2 linked regions of the Homo sapiens genome follow. The protein of the gene in region 2 interacts with the protein of the main gene of each other region in a pairwise test. Each region holds a gene or a part of one and is shown on either strand. Other genes may lie near its edges.

Region 1 (3,725 bases), on a different chromosome or scaffold from region 2:
CTAGCACTTCGGGAGGCCACAGCGGGAGAATTGCTTGAGACCAGAAGTTCAAGACAGCCTAGGAACACAGCGAGACCCTTTCTCTATTAAAAAATTAGCCAGGGGTGGTGGTGTGCACCTGTAGTCCCAGCTACTCTGGAGACTGAGGTGGAGAATCGCTTGAGCCAGGAGGCTGTAGTGAGCTGTGATTGTCGCCACTGCACTCCAGCCTGGGCAACAGAGCAACACCCTGTCTAAAAATATATATATATATATGTCTCAAGGGTTTGAAGATGTGACCAATGAACTCTTTCTATCCCCAATCCTAGGAGTCTTATGTCTGGAAGATGTACCAAGAGAGATGTTGGGATTTCTTCCCAGCTGGTGATTGTTTCCGTAAGCAGTATGAGGACCAGCTTAGCTGACACACCCCCAGCTGGCCCTCCACCCCCACCTCAAGTGCCTTATTCTCACAGCAAGCCCCTTAGTCCCCAAGCCCCTCCCCCTAAGGCAGCTGGGGGAGAGGTGACCTAGTACTGGAAAATAAATCTGTGCTACGCCCCCCAGCATCACTGTGTTGGCCTGCTGAAATTTTGGAGGAGTGGACATCCAGGAATTGTTTCCCCCAAGAAAAACAAGATGACAGCAGAGGCTAAAGTCATGTTTATTGGGAGATGAGGACATGCCATGACCACTAGTGTGTCTATGGGGGAGGGGGTGCAAGGACTAGTTCCTGACACCCCCCTAGGGACTCATTCCTGGATGTAGAGGTTGCTGGGAGCAGTAGGATCATCCACTGGGCGTGTCTCCACCACTACAGGCCTGTGGAAGGAAGAGATAAGTCAGTTCATTTATTCATTCATATGTTCATTGATTCATTAATTCACAAAGTAGTTAATAGAGACTGTGCCAGCCCCATGCTGAACTATAGCAGTGAATGGGCAGACACGGTCCCTGCCCTTAGGAAGCTTGCATTCTAGAGAAGGAGATCAACATGAATCAGTGAATTACATGAGTGCAAAAAAGCATGGCATGTCTGGCAGGGAAACCTAACCCAGGAGGTCAGCCCAGACTCCCCAGAGAATGGATGGTGCAGCCTGAAGGGGGGTTAGGAGGGAACTTGGTGAAAGGGCAAGGAAGAGTGTTCTGGCTGGGGAGAACAGCCTGTGCAAAGGATTTGAGGTGGGAGAAAGGCTGGGACTTGGCTGGAGATGTCATGGCCTTGTGGGCTGTGGCCAGGATTGAGTCTTTATCTTGAGGCCATGGGAGGATTTTAAGCAGGGAGACAGTGACACGATCAGATTTGGATTTAAAGTGACCCTTCTGGCATGTCAAAAGGACACAGGGGCTACTTAAAGTGGTTCCCACTGGCTAAATTTAAGACCATTTGTGCCTCAAAATAAATAATGACAAGGCCGGGCATGGTGGCTCATGCTTGTAATCCCAGCACTTTGGGAGGCCAAGGGGGGCAGATCACTTGAGGTCAGGAGTTCAAGACCAGCCTGGCCAATATGGTGAATCCCATCTCTACTAAAACTACAAAAATTATCCAGGTCCATCCTGGCTAACACGGTGAAACCCCATCTCTACTAAAAATACAAAAAAAAATTAGCCAGGTGTGGTGGCAGGCACTATAGTCCCAGCTACTCGGGAGGCTGAGGCAGGAGAATGGCGTGAACCTGGGAGCCAGAGCTTGCAGTGAGCCGAGATAGCGCCAGTGCACTCCAGCCTGGGCGACAGAGCGAGCCTCTGTCTCAAAAAAAAAAAAAAAAATTTATCCAGGCATGGTGGTGCACGCCTGTAATCCCAGCTATTCGGGAGGCTGAGGCAGGAGGATCGATTGAACCTGGGAGGCAGAGGTTGCAGTGAGCTGAGATCACACCACTGCACTCCAGCCTGGGTGACAGAGCGAGACTCCATCTCATAAATAAATAAATAAATAATGACAGTAATAGACTATAACCCACAGAATAAAAATCCATGAGACCATGCTGGTATAAAGAAAGAAGAATGGAGAAGACACAGCTCTTCTTTAGAGTAGAATGCCAACTAACACACGCAGAAGGAAACATAGAATCAGAAAATCACCATTTATTGTTAGTAGCCACCTAACAATAATAGATTCAGGGAAAAATCAATTGATTCTAAAACTAGTGGGCAGGCCAGGTGCGTTGGCTCAAACCTGTAATCCCAGCTACTCGGGAGGCTGAGGCAGGAGAATTGCTTGAACCTGGGAGGAGGAGGTTGCAGTGAGGCGAGATCGTGCCACTGCACTCCAGCCTGGGGGACAGAGTGAGACTCTGACTCAAAACAACAACAAAAGACAAACAAAAAACAATAAAACTAGTGGGTGAAAATCTGATGAGAAACAACGTATTTACAGACTATTTACCTCGTCTCAGTGAATCTCCCCAAAAGATACTTCTTTTTTTTTTTTTGAGACAGAGTTCACTCTTGTTGCCCAGGCTGGAGTGCAATGGCGCGATCTCGGCTCACTGCAACCTCCGCCTCCCGGGTTCAAGCGCTTCTCCTGCCTCAGCCTCCCGAGTAGCTGGGATTACAGGCATGCAACACCATGCCCGGCTAATTTTGTATTTTTAGTAGAGACAGGGTTTCTCCACATTGGTCAGGCTGGTCTCAAACTCCCGACCTCAGGTGATCCACCTGCCTCGGCCTCCCAAAGTGCTGGGATTACAGGCGTGAGCCACCGCGCCCGACCGGTGGGATACTTCTTATTACAAAGAAAAACAGAGGCTGGGTGCGGTGACCCCTGCCTATAAGCCCAGCACTTTGGGAAGCCTACACAGGTGAATCTCTTGAGTCCAGGAGTTCCAGACCAGGCTAAGTAACATGGCGAAACCCTGTCTGTACAAAAAATACGAAAATAAGCCAGGTGTAGTGGTACGCGCCTGTCATCCCAGCTACCCGGGAGGTTGAGGTGGGAGGACTGATTGAACCCAGGAGGTCGAGGCTGCAGTGAGCCATGATCGCGTCACTGCACTCCAGCCAGGGTGACAGAGAGAGAATCTATCTTTAAAAAAAAAGAAAAAGGGAGAAAAAAGCAACTTCACAGTGGAGAGAACTGGCTGATTCTACCTTAACCAAATGACCGAAGTTAATATCACCAGTAATGGGACAAACTAGCATTGTGTACTTCCTGAAATGATGCACTGAGAAAGACATCTTTCTGCAGTATTCCTGCCCAAAATTCAGAACGTGGAAACCTCAAACACAGTTAAGGGACATTTTAGAAAACAAATTTCCTTTAATTTTTAAAAAGGTCAAAGCTCCTTTAAGACAAAAGAAGTTTTAATTATTTTTTCCGGCTTAATTATAAAGAAACATGGCTCCTAAGTGCCACCTATGATCTTGGACCAGAAAAAAAAAAAAAAAAAAAAAATATATATATATATATATATATATATATATATATATATATATAATCACGGGCGTCACTAGGACAACGGGTGAAATTTTTTGTTGTTGTTGTTGTTGTTTTCTGAGACAGAGTCTCGCTCTGTCACCCAGGCTGGAGTGCAGTGGCGTAATCTCGGCTCACTGCAACCTCCACCTCTCCGATTCAAGTGATTCTCCTGCCTCAGCCTCCCAGCTGGGATTACAGGCACGTGCCACCACACCCAGCTAATTTTTGTATTTTTACTAGAGGTGGGGTTTCTCCATGTTGGCCAGGCCCATCTCCAACTCCTGACCTCAGGTAATCTGCCCACTTCAGCCTCCCAAAGTGC
Region 2 (4,432 bases):
TACAAATTTTGGCATTCTCTCCACCCCTGCTTCCCAAACATAGGCTTGTCCAGTTTTACTCATTGAGGCCTCTGGAGTCAGGCAGCTATGTGAGCGCAGAGAAATTGCTAAACTACTCTGTGCCCCTTTCCTCATTTATAAAGTTGTAATGGTACCAATAATACATACATTTCTTATAGGGTTGGTGTGAAAATGAAATGACTGACACACATAAAGCATTTAGAACAGTGCCTGGTATATGGCAAGTATGCAGTATATACCAGTATTATTCACTCAACAAATATTTGTGGACAGGCTCTCAGTACAGACACAGTGTCAGGTGCTGGGCAGTGGCTGTTGTTCATTTTGTTTTCCCCACACCTTGCACCCTTGCACAGTGGCTGCCACATCATGTGTCCTTAATAGTTGCTGAATGGGATCATTCAAAGTCAAATCTATGGATTAAACCAATTAGCCCTGATACTCTGATTTCCAGTCCAGTGAGGGAGACAGTGAAAGTGACAGCATCACATCACAGTATTAATATTTTTGAGAAATAGAAGTGCCTAGATTGACATCTTGGGATAGAATGGGCCACTGAACACGCAAGGTTAGGCCAAGTCTAGAACCCACGCACTTGTCCCTCACCTTCCCCCAAAGTGTGTGAAGGGGGTGCAGAGGAACTGCATGGAGGAATAAAAAAAACTCATTGACATAAGGTCATCAATTATAACAAATGTACCATCCTGGTGGGGGATATTGATAATAGGGGAGGCTATGTATGTATGGGGCAGAGGGCATATGGGAAATCTCTGTTCTTTCTGCCCAACTTTGCTGTGAACCTAAAACTGCTCTAAAAAATAAAGTCTATTAAAACAAATCTCATCGGGGGAAATGAAAAATTCACTTTACTTGGGGAAGGGACATGTGGACTTTTTGATTTTTACAATTCTGACTGGGAATTAGAAGTTGAGCTGAGTAGAAATGAGAATGGGAGTGGATGCCAGTTTTACAAGAATCAAGCTTCTTGCTTGGGCAAATCTGTCATGACTAACCTGCCCCATTTGCAAAGCATTTCTGTCTGGGTTTTATTGGGGCTTCACAAAAGGGTGTGTATTTAAAAATAAAAACACTGAAAAACTTTTGTGAAGATTCAAAGAAGAAAACATGCAATGAAGTGAGCAGCCTCCGATTGGATAGACTTGCCTTGTGGGGCTGGGTTGCTTCTCCCTGACCGGCGACTTCCAAAGCCTCAATAAGACGAGCTATTGGTCAGCAGTGCCTAAGATGCTATGGGCCAGGCTGGCCAAGAGGCTAGCAAGCACAGAGATGGAAAAGTCCAGTTCACAGTTCAGCACCATCACTCCATCACACCTTACAGTCACCAAGAGGTGCTCCAGAAATGGTGCAGTCACAAATTGGTTGCAACAACGGAGGCTTGGCTTTCCCTGTGACCACTTAAAGTGGCTCGATTTGGTTTTCTGAGCCCCGAGCTCAGTTCTTCCTCCCCTAGACCTTGGGAAGTACGAGCCATGGATCTGCAGATTCCAAAAGAAAGTGGGCTGAGCAAGCCCTGTTCGTCTGGCTGTCTGGTAAAAGACACATCCATTGTGCAGCACCCCCACATCCCTGGCATATCACGGTGCTTTTCCTGGAAAAGTCCATATTGGATTTGCGGTCTTGAAAACCCCAAGCTTAAAACACCCTGGGCCTCAGGATTTCCCCCCGTGTCCGTAATGCCACCTCTTCTACTCCAGGCTACCTCCCACAGTCTAAACAAATAAGCAGAAGGAGATTCTCACCCCACTCACACAGGCAGTCCAAAGTCCACTTCTTGCTTGGCTTTTTCTTTCTCAAATACCTTTTCTCATAGCCCTGATACTTCTAAACAGAAAGCAATAGCCTGCCTTGGGAAGAAGATAGACAGAAAGACAGGAACAGAGTCCAGATCCAAAGGTAGCTCTTGTCTGGCCTTCCTGCTGGAGCTACTCTCTGAGGGTTCCCAATTTGCATTTCCCACATACTGTAACCAGCCCTAGCCTTCAGAAATCCCAACTTCTTCCCTCTTGCTTTCTTGGACCTTCTCTTCCAAGAAAATACACACCAGTATGACCGCACTGTGGCCACTGCTGGTTCTCAGCCAAAAGCCTGGAGTTTTCACTTCTACTCTCTCTTCCCACTCTAGCCAATGCTTTCTGTTGACCCATGCTCCTGGTTTGTCAGCCTGCATGTGCACAGATTCCCTCCCAGGGCAGGGATGTAGGGCAAATCTTCTCCCAGAGCTCAGTCCATCCAGCTCAGTCTCTCTAGGCTGGGTCTTTGCCAGAAGATGCCCATGTAAAACCAACCACTCAAGCAAGACTTCTACCAGGGCCTGTCACCCTAAGACTGGTCAGAAAAGTGACTGGAGCCTTTGGCTTAGAGCCCCTCATTTCCTTGGAAACTGGGGTTGGTGGGGCTGAGTCTTGGAAACCCAAGGGCCCAGGAACTTATAATGTTCCTTCCTCTTTGAAAGAGGCAGTTGAAACTGACAGCCAGTCCCTAAGGAAGAGTGACCAAACACAATACCCAGCCCTGCACCTTCTCTCCATCCACGAAGATACGCTGATTCCTGGCAGCTAACATGGGACTCAAACCATCAGGCAGATGAACACTCACCTGTTCCGTAGCTTGCCCCAAAAGCCAGGGAGAGAAACAGCACGAAGGTCAAGGAGAGGAGCCCCTTGGGATCCATCAGCCAATGAGGAGAAGGAAGGGATCCTGGCCGGAGCCTGGCAGCTGCTCACAGATGCCAGGCAGAAGCAAGCTTCGTGTCATGCAGCAGAGGCTGTCTGATTTATGTATCAGGAACCAGCAGGTTCCTGAACCCGCTTCCTGTATCACTGGGACTTTTTCTGCTTGTGTCTTGAGGATTGCTCATCTCCCATGAGGCTTTAAATCACTTTTTTGTTCTCAAGAAGCAGGCTTCTCAAGAAGCCAGGCACTTAGCCTATGGGAGCCAGGAAAGGGGGTGTGTAGTCACCTCGGCCAAAACCCGGCTTTGGGCAGAAACATGCGCCCCAGCTTCTTTCCTTAGCTGTCTCCAGGAACCGGATGTTGCAGATTCTCTGAGCAGTTCTCTCCGGTAAGTCTTCTTGGATTGCAAAGAAAAGATGTTTCATTGGATCACTCCTCAAATTTGGCAGTTCACAGCTGAACTTAGATAACTGCATTTTGATGAGCTAATAGACCTCTTACTTCTGTTTTATTTCATAATTTCAGATGACACCTCAACATGCAGTCTGGTGCAGGTGCCACTGTCACACAGAGATGGGAAGGGCATGTGCGGGTCACTTGGAAGAAACCCTGTGACCCCGATGAGTGCAATGTGGTATAATTTAGTAGCCCATGCTCCTAGTTTGTCTTCTTGCATGTGTGTGGATTCCCTCCCAGGCAGGGATGTAGGACAAATCTATCCCAGAGCTCCATCCTTCCAGCTCAGTCTCCTTGTTGTGTGTGTGTTTTCTCCTCTAATTTTTAACGTCTGTGGGTACATAGTAGATATACATATATGTGTGTGTGTGTGTGTGTGTGTGTGTGTGTGTGTGTGTGTGTGTATGTATATATATATGTATGGGGTATGCATATATTTGTATGGGGTATATGAGATATGTTGATAGAGGCATGCAATATGTAATAATCACACAGGGTAAATGGGATATCCATCACCTCAAATATTTATCCTTTGTGTTACAAACAGTGCAATTATATTTTTATTTTTAAATGTGCAATTAAATTATTATTGACTATAGTCACACTGTTGTATTATCAAATACTAGTTCTTATTCATTCTTTCTATTTTTTTGTACCCATTAACCATCCCCACTTCTTCCCCAACCCCCACTACCCTTCAGCCTCTGGTAACCATCCTTCTACTCTCTATGCCCACAAGTTCAATTGTTTTAATTTTTACCTCTCACAAGCAAGTGAGAACGTGCAAAGTTTGTCTGTCTGTGCCTGGCTTATTTCACGTAACATAATGATCTTCAATTCCATCCATGTCATTGTGAATGACAGGATCTAATTCTTTTTTAGCTGAATAGTACTTCATTGTGTATATGTACCACATTTTCTTTATCCACTCATCGGTGATAGACGCTTAGGTCGCTTCCAACCTTGGCTATTGTGAATAGTGCTGTAATAAACATGGGAGTACAGATATCTCTTCAATATACTGATTTCTTTTCTTTTAGGTGTATACCTACCAGTGAGATTGTGGATCATATGGTAGCTCTATTTTTAGTTTTTTGAGGAACCTTCAAACCATTCTCCACAGTGGTTGTACTAACTTATATTCCCAACAACAGTGTACAAGGGTACTTTTTCTCCACATCCTTGTCAGCATTTGTTATTACCTGTCTTTTGGATAAAAGCCATTTTAATTTAATTGGGGCTGTGTTGTATTCTGGGAGTT

What was found.
Region 1: the proteins of SLAMF1 (region 2) and MAP4K1 interact in binary tests that used the Homo sapiens proteins (3 or more experiments, as listed by UniProt).

Annotation. Positions count from the first base shown.
Region 1 is NC_000019.10:38,587,017-38,590,741, forward strand, and holds the end of MAP4K1 (mitogen-activated protein kinase kinase kinase kinase 1), read right to left. Parts: intron 2,260-3,725; coding exon of another isoform or gene 2,162-2,259; intron 802-2,161; coding exon 732-801; 3' UTR 625-731; downstream 1-624. Other genes in the region: RYR1 (ryanodine receptor 1), read left to right, coding at 309-404. UniProt on the Homo sapiens protein: Serine/threonine-protein kinase, which plays a role in the response to environmental stress. Appears to act upstream of the JUN N-terminal pathway.
Region 2 is NC_000001.11:160,644,233-160,648,664, forward strand, and holds the start of SLAMF1 (signaling lymphocytic activation molecule isoform b precursor), read right to left. Parts: upstream 2,813-4,432; 5' UTR 2,714-2,812; coding exon 2,638-2,713; intron 1-2,637.